Homo sapiens: one gene and its partners. The protein of the gene in region 1 interacts with the protein of each later gene in a pairwise test. Each region holds a gene or a part of one and is shown in the gene's direction. Other genes may lie near its edges.

Evidence for each region.
Region 2: the proteins of KLHL12 (region 1) and ZBP1 interact in a two-hybrid assay, tested with the Homo sapiens proteins (one large-scale study listed by BioGRID).
Region 3: the proteins of KLHL12 (region 1) and FGD2 interact in binary tests that used the Homo sapiens proteins (3 or more experiments, as listed by UniProt).
Region 4: the proteins of KLHL12 (region 1) and FMR1 interact in a two-hybrid assay, tested with the Homo sapiens proteins (one large-scale study listed by IntAct).
Region 5: the proteins of KLHL12 (region 1) and TAOK2 interact in a two-hybrid assay, tested with the Homo sapiens proteins (one large-scale study listed by BioGRID and IntAct).
Region 6: the proteins of KLHL12 (region 1) and COL8A1 interact in a two-hybrid assay, tested with the Homo sapiens proteins (one large-scale study listed by BioGRID and IntAct).
Region 7: the proteins of KLHL12 (region 1) and CRTC3 interact in a two-hybrid assay, tested with the Homo sapiens proteins (one large-scale study listed by BioGRID and IntAct).

What each region holds. Positions count from the first base shown.
Region 1 is NC_000001.11:202,920,735-202,924,234, reverse strand, and holds part of KLHL12 (kelch-like protein 12), read left to right. Parts: intron 1-3,500. UniProt on the Homo sapiens protein: Substrate-specific adapter of a BCR (BTB-CUL3-RBX1) E3 ubiquitin ligase complex that acts as a negative regulator of Wnt signaling pathway and ER-Golgi transport.
Region 2 is NC_000020.11:57,613,927-57,617,426, reverse strand, and holds part of ZBP1 (Z-DNA-binding protein 1), read left to right. Parts: intron 1-958; coding exon 959-1,183; intron 1,184-1,846; coding exon 1,847-1,915; intron 1,916-2,366; coding exon 2,367-2,540; intron 2,541-3,500.
Region 3 is NC_000006.12:37,008,655-37,012,154, forward strand, and holds part of FGD2 (FYVE, RhoGEF and PH domain-containing protein 2), read left to right. Parts: intron 1-179; coding exon 180-411; intron 412-2,318; coding exon 2,319-2,396; intron 2,397-3,051; coding exon 3,052-3,200; intron 3,201-3,500. UniProt on the Homo sapiens protein: Activates CDC42, a member of the Ras-like family of Rho- and Rac proteins, by exchanging bound GDP for free GTP. Activates JNK1 via CDC42 but not RAC1.
Region 4 is NC_000023.11:147,946,419-147,949,918, forward strand, and holds part of FMR1 (fragile X messenger ribonucleoprotein 1), read left to right. Parts: intron 1-2,264; coding exon 2,265-2,426; 3' UTR 2,427-3,500.
Region 5 is NC_000016.10:29,983,868-29,986,380, forward strand, and holds part of TAOK2 (serine/threonine-protein kinase TAO2), read left to right. Parts: intron 1-1,345; coding exon 1,346-1,711; intron 1,712-1,790; coding exon 1,791-1,994; intron 1,995-2,397; coding exon 2,398-2,513. UniProt on the Homo sapiens protein: Serine/threonine-protein kinase involved in different processes such as membrane blebbing and apoptotic bodies formation DNA damage response and MAPK14/p38 MAPK stress-activated MAPK cascade.
Region 6 is NC_000003.12:99,795,594-99,799,717, forward strand, and holds the end of COL8A1 (collagen alpha-1(VIII) chain precursor), read left to right. Parts: coding exon 1-543; 3' UTR 544-3,624; downstream 3,625-4,124. UniProt on the Homo sapiens protein: Macromolecular component of the subendothelium. Major component of the Descemet's membrane (basement membrane) of corneal endothelial cells. Also a component of the endothelia of blood vessels.
Region 7 is NC_000015.10:90,536,423-90,539,922, forward strand, and holds part of CRTC3 (CREB-regulated transcription coactivator 3), read left to right. Parts: intron 1-3,500. UniProt on the Homo sapiens protein: Transcriptional coactivator for CREB1 which activates transcription through both consensus and variant cAMP response element (CRE) sites.

The sequences.
Region 1 (3,500 bases):
GGGAATTAGGAAAAGGTTGGCTTGAGAGAATACAGGTAGTGCTCACAAAGTATTAAGAAACACTACTTAGTAATTGCCTGACAAAATACTTGAAATGTATAGTAAGGCTGCTGAATATATTGTGTTGAATATTCTTAGAAAGCTGAACAGAAAATAACATTGCAAATCTTTGTTTTTCAAGATCCCAAGTCTCATTTTAAGAGCAGATTTAAATAAATTATCTTGATTTATTTTTTCAAAGCTCAGTTGTGGGTGCATCACTGTTTATTATATAATTTACACTTACATGTATGCCTGAAATATTTCATTATGAAAACACTGTTTTAAAAGTCTTTTTAAGCACAAGTTTTTTGTTTGTTTTTTGTTTTTTTTTTAGTTAGTTCTATCATCTTAGTGTAGATATTGCTGCTGAATCAGAATGGGAGAGGCGTATTCTGTGATGGTAATAACTACCTTTTATGGGCCAGGTACTGTGCTAGTAATTGTTGTGCATATCTGACTCACCCTAGGGGTAGGTATTACCATCTCATTTTACAAATGAAGGAATAGGGTTTCAGATATTAAATCACTTGCCCAAAGTCCCATGGCTTGTAAGTGCTAGAGGTGGGATTTCATTTTATATTTTCCAACTCTAAAGCCCAAACAGTTTGTAACTCTTGTGCCGCCTTAGCCTCCGAAGTATGAATTTTATATACTACAATCTAATTTTAAAACTGGTATAGTTAAAAATACTATGAGCCAATGCTCAGTCACATGGCTAGTAGGGAAAACAGGAACCTGACAGGTCATTCCAACTAATTCAGGCTAATTTTTAAATAAACTTGTGTGATATACCAAGGCAGATCCCTGTCCTATACTGTTCTCCATGAGATATACCCAAGATCATCAGAAGCATTTGGAATTTAACTGGGTAAAGAGAGTGTCACCCAGCAGCTGCTGAGCAAGAAATGAACTAGAACGGCTGATTGCTAATTATATGTTGTGCATCCTGTTTTTTGTCAGCTTGAAAATAGTGTCTTTACTCTTTTGTTATTTGGAAATGAATTCTTTTTTTCTCATCAGTGATGATTTCTTTCTTTAAAAACTGACATCAGGCAAGGAAATGCTAGATGGTTTTGTCTTTATTTTTGAGAGTAATTGTTCAAAGGAGAGAGTCCAGAGACCTGGATTCTAGGCTTAGTTCTCTTAGCAATTCTGTATAAACCCTGGGAACCATCTAACTTCACTGGGTTGATCTGTAAAATAAAGTAGTTGAACTAGATGGTTTCCTTGTTCTCTTCAGCTATGAAATGCTCCTCAAATGTCATCTGATTGAAAGATCACAAAGACTGAGGCAGGAGGACCTGGGTTTTGTCTCTCTCTCTCTCTCTTTTTTTTTTCCTGAAATACTTTAATAAGAATGATATCTGTCTCTTACTAGCTAAGTGACTGGTTAAGTCTTGGATCTTCAGCTGGGCGTGGTGGCTCACGCCTGTAATCCCAGCACTTTGGGAGGCCGAAGCAGGTGGATCACGAGGTCAGGAGATCAAGACCATCCTGGCTAACACGGTGAAACCCCGTCTCTACTAAAAATACAAAAAATTAGCCGTGCGTGGTGGCGGGCGCCTGTAGTCCCAGCCACTCGGGAGGCTGAGGCAGGAGAATGGCGTGAACCCGGGAGGCGGAGCTGGCAGTGAGCCCAGATCACGCCACTGCACTCCAGCCTGGGTGACAGAGCGAGACTCTGTCTCAAAAAAAAAAAAAAGTCTTGGATCTTCTTTGATCTTTAGACCCTTTATCGCTCTCTCTTTTTTTTTTTTTCCTTGACGCCTGGCTAATTTTTTGTATTTTTAGTGGAGACGGGGTTTCACCATGTTAGCCAGGATGGTCTCGATATCCTGACCTTGTGATCCACCCACCTCGGCCTCCCAAAGTGCTGGGATTACAGGCTTGAGCCATGTGCCCGGCCCCCCTTTATCTCTTAGATAGTAATAATATCAGACCTAACTACCTTACCAGGTTGCTGTGAGAATCAGATGAAATAGTAGTAAATGAGAAGCATGCTGAAAAATTCTAAAGCAAAATATAACTGTAAAATGTATAATTGCTCTAAGTTCTTACATAGTGAAATTGTTTCCATATTTAAACTATTTGATGGAAATGTAGTTTATTGAATGAGAAATTTCTGGAATACATGTACTTACATATTTCAGTACCATAATTATTAAATGCATTTAATGTGTTGGGATAGTAATTGTTTATGAATATTAGTACTGTATTAAATGTTAATAAAACCTAATATGTTTTTTCAAAATAATGTGCTAGTGACTTTTTTAGTGTTAGGGATTGATTTTGTTCTTGGCTTTGGTAGAGAGTGCTTTTTGGTTATTCTCTGGCTGATGGAGAAATAAAAAACGTTAAAGCCATTTAGTTAATAATGGAGATGCACCAGAGTTTTTTAAGTAAAATGAATTTCTAAACTAAGATTAAGATCTAGTAAAATTTTCATAAGGTATTTTCAGATAGTTTCCTGTAAAATTGAAGATTTCTTCTCTTAGCTAAACAGTTTTCTATGATTATCTGGCCTCATCAATACTCATAGCTTCAAGAAGATATACTACTAACAATTTAGACTAAATATACTGCTAACAATTCAGTTAGTCTAACCCAATATTTTGAAAAAGTAACAAATAATTTATTTGTATTCAGATGATGTTACATAAGAAAGTCCCTTAGGATGACCTGCATGTTCTTTTTCGTCATTACTAAATGCAGTCTAAGGGCCGGGCATGGTGGCTCACGCCTGTAATCCCAGCATTTTGAGAGGCTGAGGTGGGCAGATCACTTGAGGTCAGGAGTTCAAGACCAGCCTGGCCAACATGGTGAAACCCCATCTCTACTAAAAACACAAAAATTAGCCAGGCATGGTGGCATGTGCCTGTAGTCCCAGCTACTCAGGCGGCTGAGGCAGGAGAATCGCTTGAACCTGGGAGGTGGAGCTTGAAGTGAGCCAAGATTACGCCACTGCACTCCAGCCTGGGCAACAGAGCAAGACTGTGTCAAAAAAAAAAAAAAAAATTAGCTGGTTGTAGTGGTGTACTCCTGTAATCCCAGCTACTTGGGAGGCTGAGGCACGAGAAACACTTGAACCTGGGAGGCAGAGGTTGCAGTGAGCTGAGATCACACCACTGCACTCCAGCCTGGGGAACAGAGCAAGACCCTATCTCAACAAAGGGGAAAAAAAAGTAGTCTAAGGACAGATGATAGGAACTAGGTAGTCCTGGAGAGACTGGAGTTATAACCCACAGGCTCCTCTACGAACATGAAATTTCTTTGAAATATTGTGTCTTATCTTAAAAGTTCACGGACCAGTGTTATGTTCATGGAACTTTTGCATTCTATTCTGTAAATACATCTGTATTTTAATATGAAATAGATTTTTAAAGTTATTCACTGGCAAAATTACTATTCCAGGAAGGTGTTACCTATTACTTATTCCTGGCGTATAGATAACTACCTAC
Region 2 (3,500 bases), on another chromosome or scaffold:
CAGGGGACCCACACACAAGCAGCGTCCCAGCCACTCTGGGACACAGAGACAGGCTTTCCCTAGGAAGTGGCATCTGAGGAGGCCTGGAGGTTGAGTAGACATCATACAGGTTGGGGCGTGAGGGAAGGGTGCTCCTGGCAGCAGGAACAGTGTGCACAAAGGGGCTGGGGAGAGTGGGGCTGAAGGGAGCACAGACAGGCCAGCACTTGGAGGGAAGTTGGGGGCAGGTGCAGGCCAAGCTGGGTGGTTGGCAGAGCCAGATCTGGAGGGTACCTGACTGGAGCTGGCGGGCCAACGGGGAGCCTATCACTGTACCTAGGAGATGGTGAAGAGGAAGGGGGTGGTGCTGGCAGAAAAGAGAGGAGTGGGGGGATTCCAGAGAATCCAGGAATGGCATTTCCAGGGCTCCACGACTGGGCACTGGGGGAAAGGTCTGTTTCTGATGTCTGGTCGGTCTCTGGCTTGGATGGATAGTGGCGCCATGGATGGATGGTGAGCTGAGAGGAGGGCACTCCCGGGGAGGATGGCGATGGGCATCAGGTAAACCCAGGCAGGCGTCCCAGGCAGGACTTGCCTTTGCGCTCCCAGGTCCCCCTGCCTCCCTCTGGCTCCGTCCTTCTGCCCTCTACTCCCCTCTGCCCTGAGGACACCTGAGAGCTGAGGAACCCCACTGCCCTCTGGAACCCACACCCGGGGAGGGCACAGGCGAGGTGGCACCTCCCCTGGCCACCAGGCTGCGCAGCCAAGGCCGTTTCTGATCAGCCTGCATGCCTCCCTCTGGGCAGATGCAGCTGCCCTACTGCTCTTAGGGGGCATCTGCTGGGGTCCTTGCCCTTTCCTCTGCCCTGGACCCCTCTCAAAAAGGGGCCTACGTGCCTCCTGGAGCCTCCAGCCTGGGCTCAACTGTGGGGACCTGGGAGACTCAGTTCCCCTCTCTGTCCCCCGCTCGCTCCCCCAGGCCACCTTGAACAAAGAATCCTGCAGGTGCTGACAGAGGCTGGCTCCCCGGTGAAACTTGCCCAGCTGGTGAAGGAATGCCAAGCACCCAAGAGGGAGCTCAACCAAGTCCTCTACCGAATGAAAAAGGAGTTGAAAGTCTCCCTCACATCCCCTGCCACCTGGTGCTTGGGCGGGACTGATCCTGAAGGCGAGGGTCCTGCAGAGCTGGCCTTGTCCAGCCCTGGTAACTGCCACCCCGGGGAGGCGGGTCTGACCCTGCAGGGAGCATCCTGGCAATGGACAAGCACAGATTTGAGCCTGGGTTCGAATCTGAACTCTGCCACATGGGAGCTCACAGGTTTCCTCTCTCTGTGCCTTGGTTTCTTTTTCTGGTTGATGGAGCTCACAGCAGGGCTGCTTGGTAGGGGTTGCTGAGAGGAGGCCCTGCGTCAGGCTCAGCCCAGCCCTGCACACAGGAGGTACTCTGCAGAACACTAACAATTATAATAGAAAATCATCATGATGGAGACAGCAATGACGCCATGGTCCCAATCACAGAACATATGCAGTCCCACCAGCCCCCCTTTTCTAGCTTTACAGCCCACAGCCAGAAGGAGCTGCCATTTATCATGCACTTAAGATTAGCCAGGCACTGTTTTGGGGTTCACCCAGCCCTCACACAACCCCAGGAGGCAAAGGAGGCTGAGCCCCGGAGAAGTTAATCGGCAGGAAGCCGCAGCTGCCAGGGCGCAGGCAGGATTTGAAGTCAAGTGTGTTGAACTCTGGAGTCTGAGTTTGCAACTACCGGCATTGCCACTTACCCCTAGGGAGCTGCCCACCTTTGTGGGGTGGAGGCCTGGTGCTGTCTTCTGTCCCCCACCCCTCTGACCCATCTTTCTTTCTGCAGCCGAGAGGCCCCAGCAACATGCAGCTACAATTCCAGAGACCCCTGGCCCTCAGTTCAGCCAACAACGGGGTAAGTTTTTGCATGTCCCTTCAGTTCCCGGGACACAGGATCCCACTCCCCAGGAACCCCAGGCCCTCCTTGAGGGTACAAGATCTCACCAGTGTTCAGGGGCCCTGTCCCACCCACCAGGCAGCTCCCATACAGTGTTCAGAGCCAAGACCCAGCCCTCACAGTGGGAGAATCTGAATGGCTGAGCAGTGATTTCTCCAGTCAGACAATAGCTGACCCTCACCATGCACCCGCCACATGCCAGGCCCAGCGCAGAGCACTCTGTGCACATCCCCCACCCTCAGGGCACCTCTGCGGTGCGTCATGATGACCCCGTTATCATGACACCCATTTTACAGATGAGGAAACCAGGCCTTGAGGGGCTGGGTCCAGGGCCACACAGCTAGGAAGCGGTGGGGCAGATGCAAACCCTAGGACTACTCCCTAACCACCTGGCCATCCTGCCTCCCAGAGGAAGACATCTACAGGTTTCTCAAAGACAATGGTCCCCAGAGGGCCCTGGTCATCGCCCAAGCACTGGGAATGAGGACAGCAAAAGATGTGAACCGAGACTTGTACAGGATGAAGAGCAGGCACCTTCTGGACATGGATGAGCAGTCCAAAGCATGGACGATTTACCGCCCAGGTAGGCCCCCGGCTGCCTGTGTCTGGGCTGCAGAGGGAAACCATGACACTAGTGCTTGGTCTTTGCTGGGTGCTCTGCTGAGCAGCTCACCGGAAACTGCTAGAAGCTTCTGGAGGTCCTACCGACAATTCACTGCAAGGGCTTCCAGGAGGAAGGGGTGTGCTGGCAAGATTAACCAGGGACAGCTTTTTGGAGGCGTGGCCCAAGGTCTGCAGTTGCAGAAGGCCAGTGAATGGGACGGAGGTGGCCCATTCCCAATGTTCTCAGCTCTGGGGTGCAGGGATCAGTCTGAGTTTGGGAATGGTTTTCTTTGAGCACTTTGCTCAAGTTGGGGTTTAAAAGTTGGCAGAAGAGAAGGCAAGACTAGTCTTGGACCCCTACCGGCTGGAGCCCCAGGGTCAGCGCAGGGTCAGCTTCCCCGTGAGACCTAACACACACAGGGCCAAGATCCAATAGGTGCATGGCATTCTCAGGGGTCCTTGAAAATGTTTTAATTTTAATTTCATTTAAAATCAGAGGAAATGAATACTACAATAATAATGAATATCTAAAAATGGGCCAGGCACGGTTGCTCACGCCTGTAATCCTAGCACTTTGGGAGGCTGAGGCGGGCAGATCACCTGAGGTCAGGAGTGACCAGTCTGGCCAACATGGCGAAACCCCGTCTCTACTAAAAATACAAAAATTAGCCAGGTGTGGTGGTGGGCGCCTGTAATCCCAGCTACTCGGGAGGCTGAGGTAAGAGAATAGCTTGAACCTAGGAGGCAGAGGTTGCACTGAGCTGAGATCGCGCCATTGCACTCCAGCCTGGGCAACAAAAGCAAAACTCTGTCCCCCAAAAAATAAAATAAAATAAAATTTAAAAATCCAGCCTGGGTTATCCTTGCTATACAATGTAATTTAAATATTTGTGTATGGGGGAAGGGCCCACAAAGGCACAGGAGCTGAGACCCTGGAGGG
Region 3 (3,500 bases), on another chromosome or scaffold:
CAAGAATGTGTTGGGAGAGAAGTGAAAGTCTTACTCAGCATGTTCCCAAAGAAAGCCAGGCACCCAGGGGCCCCTGCACTGGGGATTTGCACCAGGCAACCCAAATCCACACCAGGGACTTGCTGCTGTTTTCCCTGTTCTCCAGGGAGGAAGCCCTCAGGTCTGTCTCTTCTCCTCAGGACCCCAGAAGCAGCACCCAGAGGCCAGAGGCTAGAGGACGTGCATCACCGCCCTGAGTGCAGGCCTCCCGAGTCCCCAGGACCACGGGAGAAGACGAATGTCGGGGAGGCCGTGGGGTCTGAGCCCAGGACAGTCAGCAGGAGGTACCTGAACTCCCTGAAGAACAAGCTGTCCAGCGAAGCCTGGAGGAAATCTTGCCAGCCTGTGACCCTCTCAGGATCGGGGACGCAGGTGCCTGAGGGCTGAGGTAGAGGTGTGGGGTGCTGGGGTGGGGAGCTCTCCCTGACCTCCCCTCCACACATGCTTTCCTAGCCAGAGCCAGCAGTTCCCCAGGTGGGGGTATGGTGTGATCAGAGGTCAGCTGGGAGCTAGATTTCCCCATGCTTAATGGCCTTTGATTCACTAACTGCCTGCTACGCACCGTGCTGGATTACTTCGCGAGTCCCTCGTGTAGGAGTTTTTTGGACAAGGAAGTTGAAACACAGTTTTAAGGAACTTATTCAAGGCCACACAGCTTGGAACAGTCTCCATCTTGTGAACCTAATACTCTTCTCAGGTGGGGCCTCAGTTTACCCACTGGAGGAGACAACAATCTCAACCTAGAAATAGAGGTCTGAGTGTGAACTGTCCTGCCCTTAGACTAAAGCCCAGTCTGATCTCTTCTGTGGCTTGCAGTTTTCTCATCTGCAGAGTTCAAGGGTTGGCATGCAGATACTGTGCACCCAAATTCCCTGGAGTCACATCCCAGCACGTCTGCTTACTAACTGTGTGTCCTTGGGCAAGTCACTTGAGTCTCTTTGTGCCAGTTTCCTCATTTGTAAAATGGGGATAGTGGTTATAGTAATGCGTCCTGGTTTTCAATCGCTGCTGAACAAACCTATCAAAAATGTAGCGGCTGGCCGGGTGCAGTAACTCACGCCTGTAATCCCAGCACTTTGGGAGGCCGAGGTGGGCAGATCACCTGAGGTCAGGAGTTCAAGACCAGCCTGGCCAACATAGGGAAACACTGTCTCAACTAAAAATACAAAAATTAGTTGGGCATGGTGGTGGGCGCCTGTAATCCCAGCTACTCAGTAGGCTGAGACAGGAGAATCACTTGAATCCAGGAGGAGGAGGTTGCAGTGAGCCGAGATTGCGCCACTCCACTCTAGCCTGGGTGACAGAGCGAGACTCTGTCTCAAAAAAAAAAAAAAAAAATGTAGGGGCTGAATGTAACTGTTTATTGTTTCTCACATTTTGTGAGTTGACTGGGATGCTGCCGGGAGGTTTTTCTACTGGCCTCACTCGGGGGTCTGTGTGATTCTGCTTGGGCTGCCGTAACAAAATGCCCCAGACTTCAACACCAGACATTTATTTTCTCACAGTGCTGGAGGCTGGAAGGCCAAGTTCAAGGTGCCAGCAGGTTTGGTTTCTGGGGAGGTCTCTGTTCTTGGCTTGAAGACAGCCACTTTTTCAGTGTGTCCTTACATGGCCATTTCTTTGTCATCCCTGGTGTGTCTTCCTCTTCTGACATTAATCCTACCAGTTTAGTGCCCTACTCTTATCATCGCATTTAACCTCAATTACCTCCTCCAAGGCCTCATCTCCAAATACACTTACATTGGGGGTTAGGGCTTCAACACAGGAATTTGGTTGGCGGACGCAGTTTAGTTCCCAGCGGGATCTCTCAAGTAGCTGCAGTCAGAGGATGGCTGGGGCTGGAATGCCCAAGACAGCTCAGCTCGCAAGTCTGGCATCTGGGCAGGGACAGCCGGAAGACTGGGCTCAGCTGGGATGCTGGCAGGGCTGGGCTCTTTCTCCGTGTATTCTCCAGGCCTCTCCTCTCCACGTGGCCTGTCCATGAGGTCTCCCTATCAGAGCTGCCAGACCCCTTGATGTAGTGATTCACAGCTCCCAAGACAGCACAGGTGGAAGCTTCCAGGCCTCTTAAGGCTAAGGCAGAGAACTGGCACAGCCTTACTCAGCTGCATTCTGTGAAAGCCACCCCAGGGCCGGCCCAGATGCACTGCGGGAGGCCATGAATCCCGGGAGGCATGCTTCACTGCAGCAACTTTGGAGACTGAACCGAGGTCCCCATCAGAGGAGACCAAAGCTGTCTTCCCCCTTTTTCTCCTTCTCTCCCCTCCAATCCTCCGCAGGAGCCAGAGAAGAAGATCGTCCAGGAGCTGCTGGAGACAGAGCAGGCCTATGTGGCGCGCCTCCACCTGCTAGACCAGGCCAGTGACCAGGACACCCCCCTCTAGAGCCCCAGCCCTGGGTCTCCTCACCTCACCCCTTCTCAGCCTTCCCACCCTGCTCACCAGAGCTGAGTCAGGAGCCCTGGCTTTGACTCCAGGAAGCCTTGGCCCTTTAACCTCAATGGCTGGGGTTGGGGTAGAATCAGGAGGTCTTGTTAGCAGTACTCCCCATTCTGCCTGTGGTGCCCAGGCTGGCCCCTGTATAGCAGAGAACACACCAGCTGGCCCTTGCTGGCCTACACGGTATCTTCATCTGTCATCTCAATGCCCACAACCTCACAACGATCTTACCTTTCATAGTTTTTCAGGAGCCCTAAGGCTAGAGGGTTATTCATCACCGCAGGGAGCTCTAGTCTGATGAAGTCCAAGACCTCCACAGTTTGGGCCTGTTTATGGCATTCATCAGCTGCCAGCCTTTGGCCAAGTCCCTGCATCTCTAGGCTTTGCCTTGCTCATCTGTAAAGTGGCCAGAACACAACCTCCCCTGCCTTCTTTTCCCGGGGTTGCTGTGAGGATGCCGGGAGATCAGGGAGGTGGAAGCATGCAGTAGGCTTGGTGGGACCCTAGTTCCCCCGGGCTGATGTGTGGGTGGCTCCCTGTCACTGCAGTGAGTGACCTGTCGTGGCGGCTACAGGTGTTTTTCCAGGAGCTGCTGAAGACAGCCCGCAGCAGCAAGGCCTTCCCAGAGGATGTGGTCAGGGTCATCTTCTCCAACATCTCCTCCATCTATCAGTTCCATTCTCAGTTCTTCCTCCCAGAGCTGCAGCGGCGCCTGGACGACTGGTGAGGTCCACCAGGAGCCCCTGAGGCCTCAGACCACAGCCCTGGCCAGGTGGAGGTGGGGAGACCCCAGGGCGCTAGGTTCAGCCTCCTAGGCCCAGGCCCTTATTGTGTGGCCATGCCTCCCTGGGGCTCGGTCTGTCTGCACAGTGAAGGGCTTGGGTGAATGAGCTCTGAGAGGCTGTGTGTGTGCAGACTGCTTCCTGGGGAAAGGGGTGGATCAGGTCCTGGCCAAGCCAAGTGACCAAGTGACTTTGGGACAGTGAAAATAGCCAGTGCCAACTGAGGGCTTCCTACACGCCT
Region 4 (3,500 bases), on another chromosome or scaffold:
TACAGCCAGGACCTAGTCCGAGGATCTCTTCTCAATTGGCTGTCACCAGTGCTAAACCAATTGTTAAATAATTTTAAAATTATCTCCTGAGCACATCCAGGCACCTTTGCTAAGTGCTTTGTGTATGTTTTATCTCATTTAATCTTACAGCAACCCACTGAGGTAGTTTTATTATTCCACTTTATAGGTGAGTGCACTGTAGCTTCAGTCCTTTGCCCACAGTCACATAGCTAGCATATGTCCAAATGATAGTCAAACCTTAGTGTCTGATTCTCTGAATCTATGTTGTCGTCTACTTTTTCTGTAACTTTTAATTATTAAGTAGTTAGGGTTCCTTCCTGACTATGGATTCATTTGGGACCATCACCCAAGATTAGTGAGAGATACTTTTTAAGACAAAGTTTATGATGGAATATTTCTTGGAATTCATAGCAGCTCAAAGTAAGTGTTAACTATTGGTGGGTTCTTAAGGACCAGCATGTCCAAGGGATAGATAGATTGGTAAATTACTGTATGTACCTGTCTTTTACAAAGCTATAAGATATTTAAGTACCCGTTTTGTAATTTTCCACTTAAACTGATATGTTTGATGAACTTGGCAGTCTAACTGCATTGGTTAAAAGGATGCACATTTATATTTCTAAATGAAATGGAATACTGAATTTAAAAGGTGATGTTTTCTCTATTAAGTATGAAAATAGATACAAATCTGGCCAGGCGCGGTGCTCACGCCTGTAGTCCCAGCGCTTTGGGAGGCCAAGGTGGTCAGATCACCTGAGGTCAGGAGTTCGAGACCAGCCTGGCTAACATGGTGAAACCCCATTTCTACTAAAAATACAAAAAATTAGCCAGACGTGTTGGCGGGCACCTGTAATCTCAGCTACTCGGGAGGCTGAGGCAGGAGAATCGCTTGAACCCAGGTGGCAGAGGTTGCAGTGAGCCAAGATCTTGCCATTGCACTCCAGCCTGAGCAACAAGAGCAAAACACCATCTCAAAAAAAAAAAAAAAGGGCCAGGCACGGTGGCGCACGCCTGTAATCCCAGCACTTTGGGAGGCCAAGGCGGGTGGATCACAAGGTCAGGAGATCGAGACCATCCTGGCTAACATGGTGAAACCCCATCTCTACTAAAAATACAAAAAATTAGCCGGGCATGGTGGCGGGCACCTATAGTCCCAGCTACTCAGGAGGCTGAGGCAGGAGGATGGCGTGAACCTGGGAGGCGGAGCTTGCAGTGAGCCAAGATCGCGCCACTGCACTCCAGCCTGGGCGACAGAGCGAGACTGTCTGGGAAAAAAAAAAAAAAAGATACAAATCAAAGTACTGAATCCTTGGTAACGAGACATTTAAAACACATGCACATACCCACTACTTAAACATACTTTGAAATTACAACCATTTGGGGATGTTTTTAGCATTTGTGCTTGAAGTAGATCAATATTTGTAGTTGTTTTAGTTCCATTTGTCACTGTTAACTTTCATTTGTACCTCTGGAATTAGCAGTGCTGTATTCAGCATTGGCACTTAAAATATTTTATAGCTCTTAGAACACTATTTTTTAAATTACATTGATCTTTATACTCTCCTAGGATTCCAGTCCTTCCACAAATTATTATATGCAGTTTTCTTTATACTGTTCCATTCTTCAGACAGAGTTCAGGTTGTAGGATCATCTGAATTTTCTTAGTGAAATACAAGCCAGTAGAAACCAAAGCTCGTGTTTTTCTACTGTATGACTATGGGAGCTCTCAGTATAGAGAAACTTGATCATACCTGTGATAGATATAAAGATGTAAATTAAAGTCTAGTTAGTGAGTTATTTGAGGGTAAAGCCAGAATAGGAAAACATTTTGTTTCTCTTTTCCTGGGCTTCACAATCTTTGGAGAATAACTAATTTTATTTTAACTCTAGTGTTAGAGGCATGTATGTCTTCTGGTAATCAGTAATAGTAATTCATTTTACCTGTTTGTTTCTCACTGTTTTATTCTACTTAGAAGAAGACATGATAGGATTGTGAGTTTTTCTCTAACTTTGGATGCAGTGAGATGACCAGTGTGTTCCAGTTAAAGAAGAAGAGTGTTTTAAAATCATAAACCAAATAAAGAATCCTACCTTACATTAATTTCTTGCACTTCTTCTGTTCTCATCTCCATTTCTCTTTTTAACATGTGGAATTTACACTTCAGGTTTAAATTTCTTGTCAGGCCAATTACAGATTACAGTAGGATATGGTCTGTGTATATAACAACTATAACTTGTTTTAGATCAGAGTTGACTGCAATAATGAAAGGAGTGTCCACACTAAAACATTACAGAATACCTCCAGTGAAGGTAGTCGGCTGCGCACGGGTAAAGATCGTAACCAGAAGAAAGAGAAGCCAGACAGCGTGGATGGTCAGCAACCACTCGTGAATGGAGTACCCTAAACTGCATAATTCTGAAGTTATATTTCCTATACCATTTCCGTAATTCTTATTCCATATTAGAAAACTTTGTTAGGCCAAAGACAAATAGTAGGCAAGATGGCACAGGGCATGAAATGAACACAAATTATGCTAAGAATTTTTTATTTTTTGGTATTGGCCATAAGCAACAATTTTCAGATTTGCACAAAAAGATACCTTAAAATTTGAAACATTGCTTTTAAAACTACTTAGCACTTCAGGGCAGATTTTAGTTTTATTTTCTAAAGTACTGAGCAGTGATATTCTTTGTTAATTTGGACCATTTTCCTGCATTGGGTGATCATTCACCAGTACATTCTCAGTTTTTCTTAATATATAGCATTTATGGTAATCATATTAGACTTCTGTTTTCAATCTCGTATAGAAGTCTTCATGAAATGCTATGTCATTTCATGTCCTGTGTCAGTTTATGTTTTGGTCCACTTTTCCAGTATTTTAGTGGACCCTGAAATGTGTGTGATGTGACATTTGTCATTTTCATTAGCAAAAAAAGTTGTATGATCTGTGCCTTTTTTATATCTTGGCAGGTAGGAATATTATATTTGGATGCAGAGTTCAGGGAAGATAAGTTGGAAACACTAAATGTTAAAGATGTAGCAAACCCTGTCAAACATTAGTACTTTATAGAAGAATGCATGCTTTCCATATTTTTTTCCTTACATAAACATCAGGTTAGGCAGTATAAAGAATAGGACTTGTTTTTGTTTTTGTTTTGTTGCACTGAAGTTTGATAAATAGTGTTATTGAGAGAGATGTGTAATTTTTCTGTATAGACAGGAGAAGAAAGAACTATCTTCATCTGAGAGAGGCTAAAATGTTTTCAGCTAGGAACAAATCTTCCTGGTCGAAAGTTAGTAGGATATGCCTGCTCTTTGGCCTGATGACCAATTTTAACTTAGAGCTTTTTTTTTTTAATTTTGTCTGCCCCAAGTTTTGTGAAATTTTTCATATTTTAATTTCAAGCTTATTTTGGAGAGATAGGAAGGTCATTTCCATGTATGCATAATAATCCTGCAAAGTACAGGTACTTTGTCT
Region 5 (2,513 bases), on another chromosome or scaffold:
GTGTTTCTAGCTTGGCAAACTCTTACTCCGTTTTTGTGGCCTGACTTAACTGACATCTCCTGGGTTGCCTTCCCAGGCTCCTCTGGTGAGTCAGATGCTTCACAGTTGTGTGCTGGGGAAGCCCAGTGCTGGGGGAGCCCTGTGCCTGTGGAGCCCTGTGCTGGGGGTGTCCAGTGCTGGGGAGCCCTGTGCCGGGGGTGCCCTGTGCTTGGGTGGTCCTGAACAGCATCATGATAGGTTTGCCAGATTCTGTGCCCCAGAGGGCAGGGATGGTGTTCAGATATCTGTCTCATGCCAGCAGTTAGCTCTCAGGCTTACACACAGGCCTGTGTTAACCCTCCCAGCCCCCCTGGGAGGGGAAGGGTAAGATCCCATTGGAGAAATGAGGCACCTGTGGCTCAGAGGGGCCACTTGCCCCAGTGCCTTTGGTGGCTCTCTGCTCCTGTAAGCAGGCCCTTAGTCCTCTCCTAAAATCAACTCATGGCAGTCTTTCTCAGTTCACAGGAAAAAGTGTTTAGGCTTTTCATAAAACATAGTTTTTCATCTATGTTTTTAGATCACGTTCCTGCTGAGCTGCATTTGAGCGTCAACAATCCCCTTAGAGGCCACTGATTAAGTCTAGTATGTTCTTATGGCCTCTGCTTGGTGCTGGTTGTGTTCCAACAATTCTTCAGATCCCATGGTGTTGTGCGGTACTGTGCTGAGAGGTCTTGACTGCCAGGGGCTTGGCTGCCGGGACTAGTTTGAGAGCCACTCATAGAGTCAATTGAGAATGAGACCTGAGATCAGACTTTGGATGAAGGTGTCCAAGCCCAGTGTTCTTGTTATTCCAGCATCTTGTGGCCCCGATCCCACCTCAATACCTGGGGAGTGATAGGCCGACCATGTTTGCTGAAGGGGAAGGAAGCCAACACTTATTAGATAGAGTCCGAACTTACCCCACAGCCCCTATGAGGAGGTATTATTTCCCCATTTAACAGATGAGGGAACTGGTGCTTTGAGAAGTTAACTTACTTGAGATCACATGCTTGGTAAGTGGCAAAGCTGGGATTTGATCCCAGGTATGTCTGACTCACTGTTTCAAATTAGTATGGATTGTTCCTACTTTTGTGCCAGGCCCTGTGCTCGCCACCTTTTATCATTCGGCCACACCAACTTGTGATGTAGATAATATCACCATTATCCAGTTGAGGAAACAGGCTAGAGTGGCCGTGTGTGAGGAAGGTGTTAAATGAGAATGAAACCCATGAGTTGAAAACCCATGCTCTTCCCCACGGAAGACCCCTTGTGTTAATTAACTAGGGGCCAGGCTGAGCCCCAGCTCTCACCCTCTCTCCTTCCCCAGGTCAGCCGTCAGATCCAGGAGCATGAGCAGGACTCTGCGCTGCGGGAGCAGCTGAGCGGCTATAAGCGGATGCGACGACAGCACCAGAAGCAGCTGCTGGCCCTGGAGTCACGGCTGAGGGGTGAACGGGAGGAGCACAGTGCACGGCTGCAGCGGGAGCTTGAGGCGCAGCGGGCTGGCTTTGGGGCAGAGGCAGAAAAGCTGGCCCGGCGGCACCAGGCCATAGGTGAGAAGGAGGCACGAGCTGCCCAGGCCGAGGAGCGGAAGTTCCAGCAGCACATCCTTGGGCAGCAGAAGAAGGAGCTGGCTGCCCTGCTGGAGGCACAGAAGCGGACCTACAAACTTCGCAAGGAACAGCTGAAGGAGGTGAGCTAGGGCTGCTTGGGGGCGGAGCCGATGGCGAGCCAGGTGGGTCCTGACCCTGCTTCCCTCTGCACTCGCCCAGGAGCTCCAGGAGAACCCCAGCACTCCCAAGCGGGAGAAGGCCGAGTGGCTGCTGCGGCAGAAGGAGCAGCTCCAGCAGTGCCAGGCGGAGGAGGAAGCAGGGCTGCTGCGGCGGCAGCGCCAGTACTTTGAGCTGCAGTGTCGCCAGTACAAGCGCAAGATGTTGCTGGCTCGGCACAGCCTGGACCAGGACCTGCTGCGGGAGGTAGGCATCCCAATCTCTGTTCCCCTCCCGCTCACTCGTGGATCCCAGGGACCCACCCTTTTCCATTTTCCTCATTCTTGTCTTCTTTCTCCTTGGCCCTCGAGTGTTACAGTTCAGCTTTGCTTCAGTGCCCCTTTTACTTCTCATCCCCAACAGACCCTGCCAGAATTTCCTTAGGCCTCTTTTCCCAGGCCAGGGAGGAGCTTGCCTCCCCTACACCCTCATCTCCTGCCATCCCCAGCTCCCTCTGCCAAGGAGCCCTGGCCCCTCACTTCCTTGATACTGACCAGGCCCTGGGCCCTGTGTTTCTTCCGCCATCCCCAGCTCCCTCTGCCAAGGAGCCCTGGCCTCTCACTTCCTTGATACTGACCAGGCCCCGGGCCCTGCATTTCTTCTGCCTCAGGACCTGAACAAGAAGCAGACCCAGAAGGACTTGGAGTGTGCACTGCTGCTTCGGCAGCACGAGGCCACGCGGGAGCTGGAGCTGCGGCAGCTCCAGGCCGTGCAGCGCACGCGGGC
Region 6 (4,124 bases), on another chromosome or scaffold:
CCAGGACCTCCAGGACCCCCAGCTGTGATGCCCCCTACACCACCACCCCAGGGAGAGTATCTGCCAGATATGGGGCTGGGAATTGATGGCGTGAAACCCCCCCATGCCTACGGGGCTAAGAAAGGCAAGAATGGAGGGCCAGCCTATGAGATGCCTGCATTTACCGCCGAGCTAACCGCACCTTTCCCACCGGTGGGGGCCCCAGTGAAGTTTAACAAACTGCTGTATAACGGCAGACAGAACTACAACCCGCAGACAGGCATCTTCACCTGTGAGGTCCCTGGTGTCTACTACTTTGCATACCACGTTCACTGCAAGGGGGGCAACGTGTGGGTTGCTCTATTCAAGAACAACGAGCCCGTGATGTACACGTACGACGAGTACAAAAAGGGCTTCCTGGACCAGGCATCTGGGAGTGCAGTGCTGCTGCTCAGGCCCGGAGACCGGGTGTTCCTCCAGATGCCCTCAGAACAGGCTGCAGGACTGTATGCCGGGCAGTATGTCCACTCCTCCTTTTCAGGATATTTATTGTATCCCATGTAAAAACAAAAAAACAAAAAACAAAGAAAAGAAAGAGATTTTATAGAAGAAAATGACACACCAAAAAATCCAAATGAAAAACATAATTGCTTCAAAACACTTACACAGTTGGAAAGTTATATGTAAGTGAAAATTTGGACCATTGTGTACAAATAAAAACTAAGATGCATGTTTAATACTCCACACAGCAGCCTGTAATTGCGAATGATGGGATAGAGTTATGTATCAAGTACTGACACTTGGTTGTACCCACTGGAATCATATTAGCTGTTTTATGTTATATGCTTCCACAGTAACCTGCTTATTCAGATCAGTCAAAATATATCAGTATGAAAGATCATAGCTAATGAAAGGCACTCACTCATATTGTTTACTTTAAAATATTTATAAATATGCCTTAAAGAAATACAAATGATAACAATTACATACCGTATTTACTTGCTTAATTTCCTCTGTATTTGTGTAGATACTTTGACATGGAATATATGGTGGGGAGACCCGTAGTGTTACCGCCCCAGTGGGAGGGGGCCCTGGGGACCCTGGTAATGCTTTAGTCAAAGGGATATCTCTCTTGTATCAGAGGCTGTGTCTTTTAGTAACAGGAGTCCTCGTCAGAATTGCGTGTCTGTTGTCTCTAAAAGAATGGGTGAACCAATCGGCCTTTGTGAATTTATTCAGTGCCTTCTCTGTACCAAGCACTGGGTAAGGCACTTTTGTGGAGCATTAGACAGTAACCCTCAAGGAGCTAGAGAACCGGATGGGAGACATGAGCAGTAATTAACTCACTTGTTCCCCAGAGTTTCTATTTGTTTTGATTTTCTTTTTCTGTGACTTATTTTCCTATTTTCTTTCCTCCATGTAATTTTCACTATGGCCCAACTAATATAAACACCTGGAAATTACAAGGAAAAAAAATTCTTCCTCTAATAACTTTCCAAATTTGTGGAATATTTATTTGTAATAGCAGTTATCAGTTATGCTTATATAGCATTAAAAATTCTCCTCCTTTGACTACACACACAACCACAGTGTGGTTCTAATCATGGAGATATCAGTAATTTTTAGTAACTGAATTTTGAGGACATTTCTCTGTTTAGCATGTATGCAAACTGATATGTAATCTGAGGTTCCAAAGTCAATTTTTTTCTTTTTTTTTTGAGATGGAGTCTTACTCTGTCACCCAGGCTGGAGTGCAGTAGCACGATCTTGGCTTACTGCAACCTCTACCTCCTAGGTTCAAGCAATTGTCCTGTCTCAGCCTCCCGAGTACTGGGACTACTGTCTTGCGCCACCATGCCTGGCTAATTTTTGTATATTTAGTAAAGATGGGTTTTCGCCATGTTGGCCAGGCTGGTCTCAAACTCCTGGCCTCAAGTGATGCACCTGCCTCAGCCTTCCAAAGTGCTGGGATTACAGGCATGAGCCACCGTGCCCGGCCAAAGTCAGCTTTCAAAATCCAAGCCATAATTGGTGAGGGGGGAGTTTCAGAATTACATAGAAAAATTAATATTTGAAAAAATAATTCTGAAATTTCGAATTTAAAAACAGATGTGCTGCTTCTGGGTGTAGGTAGTAAAAGTATAGGAAAAGAACTGTTTCCTTAGAAGCGGACTGTGGAAGGGCTATGTAGAATGTCAAAGGGCAACAAGAGCCTGTGTTTTTAATGTCATCCTGTACTCGGCACAAATCAAAGGCCAATACAAGTCTGAAAAGCAGAAATAAATATTTTTCCAGGTTTTTGCTTGGGCACATACTAACTGCTTTGGGCATTCTAATCTGGTCTCCAAACACCAAAGACCCATTTCGAGCCTGCTATTAGCCTGCTGCTGACTCTATCACTTGGAGCAATAATGTGGGGTTATGGTGGTGGAATCTTGTATATTTTTGTCAAAAATAAAACCATGAGTTAAGGGGATAGATATAGATGGAAAAATACACAAATAAATACGGTATGAAAACACATGGAAATGTGTCTTTGTCAAATCTGAATCATTATTACCATCACAAAAATTCTTCTCTTGGCCAATATCTCATTTCCCTATATAGTATACAAGCACCATTTCTTCTCAATTTTTAAGAAGAGAAATTAGTCCATTACCACAGGGGTTCTTGTCACTACTAATTATACAACAATCTTTTCCCAACAAAAAGATGTCCTCCACAACCTTTGTTTTCAAAGCAGACAGCATCTATGTGGCCAAATATACTTTGGGTTGTTCTTGAGGATACTGGTTTTGGGCTGATGACTATGGTGGGCAGCATGGATCCATTGGGCTCCTTCTGCTAAACAGCCACATTGAAATGGTTTAAAAGCAAGTCAGATCAGGTGATTTGTAAAATTGTATTTATCTGTACATGTATGGGCTTTTAATTCCCACCAAGAAAGAGAGAAATTATCTTTTTAGTTAAAACCAAATTTCACTTTTCAAAATATCTTCCAACTTATTTATTGGTTGTCACTCAATTGCCTATATATATATATATATGTGTGTGTGTGTGTGTGTGCGCGTGAGCGCACGTGTGTGTATGCGTGCGCATGTGTGTGTATGTGTATTATCAGACATAGGTTTCTAACTTTTAGATAGAAGAGGAGCAACATCTATGCCAAATACTGTGCATTCTACAATGGTGCTAATCTCAGACCTAAATGATACTCCATTTAATTTAAAAAAGAGTTTTAAATAATTATCTATGTGCCTGTATTTCCCTTTTGAGTGCTGCACAACATGTTAACATATTAGTGTAAAAGCAGATGAAACAACCACGTGTTCTAAAGTCTAGGGATTGTGCTATAATCCCTATTTAGTTCAAAATTAACCAGAATTCTTCCATGTGAAATGGACCAAACTCATATTATTGTTATGTAAATACAGAGTTTTAATGCAGTATGACATCCCACAGGGGAAAAGAATGTCTGTAGTGGGTGACTGTTATCAAATATTTTATAGAATACAATGAACGGTGAACAGACTGGTAACTTGTTTGAGTTCCCATGACAGATTTGAGACTTGTCAATAGCAAATCATTTTTGTATTTAAATTTTTGTACTGATTTGAAAAACATCATTAAATATCTTTAAAAGTATGTTTCTCATCTTGTTCGTATCATTCAGTTGACACTGAACCTCACAAGTATTTTTAAATTCGTACTCTCATGAATTAGCTGCTGAAATAGAGACCTAAAATAAGCATAGCTTATACAGAACAATTTATTCCTCTTTGACTTAAGAGCTCCTAGGATAAGCAGTCTAGGACTCACATGGTAATTCCAATCACAGCCCCAGGCTCCTTCCATCTTATTGCTCTTCTACATCAAGGGTGTTGCCCTCATCTCCATGGTCCAGGATACTAACCATCAGTCACATTCTATCCCCGGGGAGGATGAACAAAGCAGGAAGGACAGGACATGCTTTTTGTCTTAAAGGACTCAACCTAGCAGCTGCTTGGATCACTGTCTCCCACATCCCGTGGCTCCAAATTTAGTCACGTGACCACAAGAAGCTGTAAGGAAGTGTGGGAAATTGAATAGTCTATGTAACCATATGCCCAGCTAAAAATCAGGGGTTCTAGTAGTATGGGAGAAGA
Region 7 (3,500 bases), on another chromosome or scaffold:
AGGTGGAGGTTGCAGTGAGCTGTGATTGTGACACTGCACTCCAGCCTGGGCAACAGAGACCCTGTCTCAAAAAAAAAAAAAAATTGCTCTGACTATTCTAGGTCATTTGCACATCCATAAATTTTAGAATTATCTTGTCAATGTCTCTGAAAGGACCCGCTGGGATTTTGGATTGTAATCGTGTTGGCTATTGTGAGACTTTTCTCAAAAAGGAATTAATGAGGCCTGGATCTCATTTCCTGTAGGCATTAAAGAAAATTCCACTAAGATGTGTGACTGTAGGCCAAAGGTCACTAACTCAGTAAGTGAGGCAGGTAAGGAAAATGAATGGAGGGGCCAGGAATGAGATGATCATGGCAGCTGATCCTGGGCCATCGTGAAGGGATAATAGGGTACAGTGAGGACTTGGCAAACACGATCTAAGGGGGTGGCCTCTTCTCAGCTTCATCCAGCGATGCCATGCAAGAACATGGGTTCAGTGTTGTCTGATCTTTCAATCAGGAGAAGTTGGAAATCCATATTTTTATGCAGTGTCCTGATTTTTTCAATTGAAATTTAATACACTGAATGGGTCAACATCTGGTGGGTAAACAGAACACTCTAGGTGAAATGTGGCCTATGGGCTGCCAGTCTGTGACCTCGGCCTTAGGCTAATCATTCTTTGGTTCACATGTTCATCATCTGTAAACATGAAGGTGTTGAAGACAGTCTCAAAGTTCTTTTTCTAGCTCAATGAGTCTAAATTTCAAAAGAGGAAAATGTCAAAATAACTCAGAGTTTGAAGAGGTAGCTGAGATCAGCAATAATGATAATATCTTAAGTTGACCAGAGCTTTACATTTGACATACCACTCTTGTGTCTGTGTCATTTAATCCTCACTTTATCTTGTGCAGGAGGCGTCAGAGTTGTTTGCCCAACCACACGGGAGTTGCAGGTTACAAAGTCACATCATCCGATTCCAGGTCCAGTGCTTTTTGTTTTTTTAGAGTCTCGCTCTGTCGCCCAGGCTGGAGTGCAATGGCGCCATCTCGGCTCACGGCAAGCTCCGCCTCCCGGGTTCATGCCATTCTCCTGCTTCAGCCTCCTGAGTAGTTGGGACTGCAGGCGCCCACCACCATGCCTGGCTAATTTTTTTGTACTTTTAGTAGAGACAGGGTTTCACCGTCTTAGCCAGGATGGTCTCGATCTCCTGACCTCGTGATCCGCCCGCCTCGGCCTCCCAAAGTTCTGGGATTTACAGGTATGAGCCACTGCTCCTGGCCTTTTTTTTGAGACAGAGTCTCACTGTGTCACCCAGGCTGTAGTACAGTGGCATGATCTTGGCTCACTGCAACCTCTGCTTCCTGGGTTCAAGCAATTCTTCTGCTTCATCCTCCCAAGTAGCTAGGATTGCAGGCATGCACCACCACAGCTGGCTAATAGTTAGTAGAGACGGGGTTTCACCGTGTTGGCCAGGCTAGCCGTGTTCTTTTTTAACAGTCTTTGAAGGCTTCGGAAATAGGTGCTTTGGGAGGGAGAGCAGTTATGGGGGATTGTGAGACGGCCTTCAGCTCAGTTGAGGGCAGGTCCCTATCTGGATTTATAACTTAGTTTGGTTGAAGTGTCAAGGCTTTTGGGTAAGAGTTGAAGCCTTTGTGAGAACTCTCTGAAGGCAGGAACTTTAGCATACATTCATCTTAGTAAGCCAGTGCCTGGCATACTACCTGACACACAGTTAAGTTTTTGTATCAGTAAATCAATGGATAAATTGATCCTTCAAAAAAGAAATCAAAGGCTTTAAATCAAGATGGCTGAGAATTTTGTCCAGAGAATTTCAAGAATAGTCAGATGCTTCTGATAAGTACTTTTAGAATGTTAAGATTGAAAGCTGAGAGACTTTATTCCTATAACTCCACTCCTAGATGGAAAAAACACCATGTCGTCCTCCTCATGTTTGACTCTGAGATTTGGGTTTTGATTAATAGGTTATAACTGTCTCCCTGTGCAGTACATTTAAGAAATCAAATACAGCAGGTATAAGGGAAGTTAAAGCCACTGAAGGATTTCGTATGCCTTTAAAATTTCCAAACAAGTATAAGTCTTTATCTTTTGAGAATACATATTGAAATATGGAGTGATACCATGTCTGAAATTTCTGTCAGTGAGGCACTGCGGGTAGTGGAGAGGGTAAAGATGAAAGATGATTGTATATAAGTTGGTAATTTTTAAGCTAGAAGATGGATAGATGGGGTTTCATTATACTTGTCTTTATTTCACATATACTATTTGAAATCTTTCATAATAAATGTAAAAAGGAAATTATCAGAGAGCTTCATAGGTTCAACAATGCTTTTGGTAAACCAAACTTCACCTTTTTTTTTTTTTTGAGTTTGTAATTAGTATGATCATCGAGGGAAAGATGGGACAAAGGAAAAGAGCATGGCAGAAATGGGCATATGGGCTTTGAGGCTGACAGCCGTGGCTCAGCCTCCTGCTAGCCACGTGGCAAGTCACTGAACTTCCGAGTCTGGGTCTCCAGGTCTGTAACAGCAGGAGAGTACAGTCTCATTTGCATGGTTGTGGGGAGGATTAGGGATGAAGTGGGCCAAGTGTCCGAGAACAGCACCTGGCCCATCCTAGGGGCTTAGATCTGGTAGTGTTTTATTATTGTTAGAGACAGAGAGTGATGAAGGGTAAAAATCTGCCCCAGGGCTCTCGTCTATAACCCTTTCTTCTCTATATGAATTATAGTGCCAAGGGTTATGTAACCATGGAGCTAATTTATTATTTTAGAAACAGAACTCTTAAAGACCAGATCAGACCACTTTGAGATTTACAAGAACTGTAACCAGTTTATTGCTTTTTGAAAAATGAAGTAAGGAAGAACTTACAAAGAAAAGCATATTAAAATGGTGGGATGCCATTTTATACCTATTGAATTGACCTCCTTCCTTACCCCAATTAATGGTAATATCCAATATCAATGAGTTTTTTTGGTGAAACTTTTCTCATATGTATATTATAAACTCTTTGGGAAAGCATTTCGGCAGTATACGTTGAGAGCCACCAAAAGGCCCATATCCAGAGATTTAGTAATCACCCTTTGGAAGGTGTTCTAAGGAAATAATTCAGAAGAACTGTTATATACCCACTAAAAATTACTCTGTAATAGCATAGAAAAGGCTTATGATGAGCATGCTAGGTTGTACCTATCTTATGATCACAGCTATGCAGTTCTTACCATAAATGTAAACGGAGGCTGGAAAAGAGCATGAAGAAGGGAAAACAGCTAATGTGTTAGGGTTGTGGATAGTAGCTTAGTTTTTCTTTCAGAAATTCTTTTATTGTTGTTAAAGATTATGCCAGTGTATCCAAACATACACACTCAAAGACCTTGCAAGAGGACGTTACTATCATGGTATATGGGACATTTGGAACATGGGTAAGCTCTTTCCGAAAATAGAGTAATCAAAACCCAGAAAGCACCGGAAACCTTGAGGGTGTGATCACTTACGTCGAGA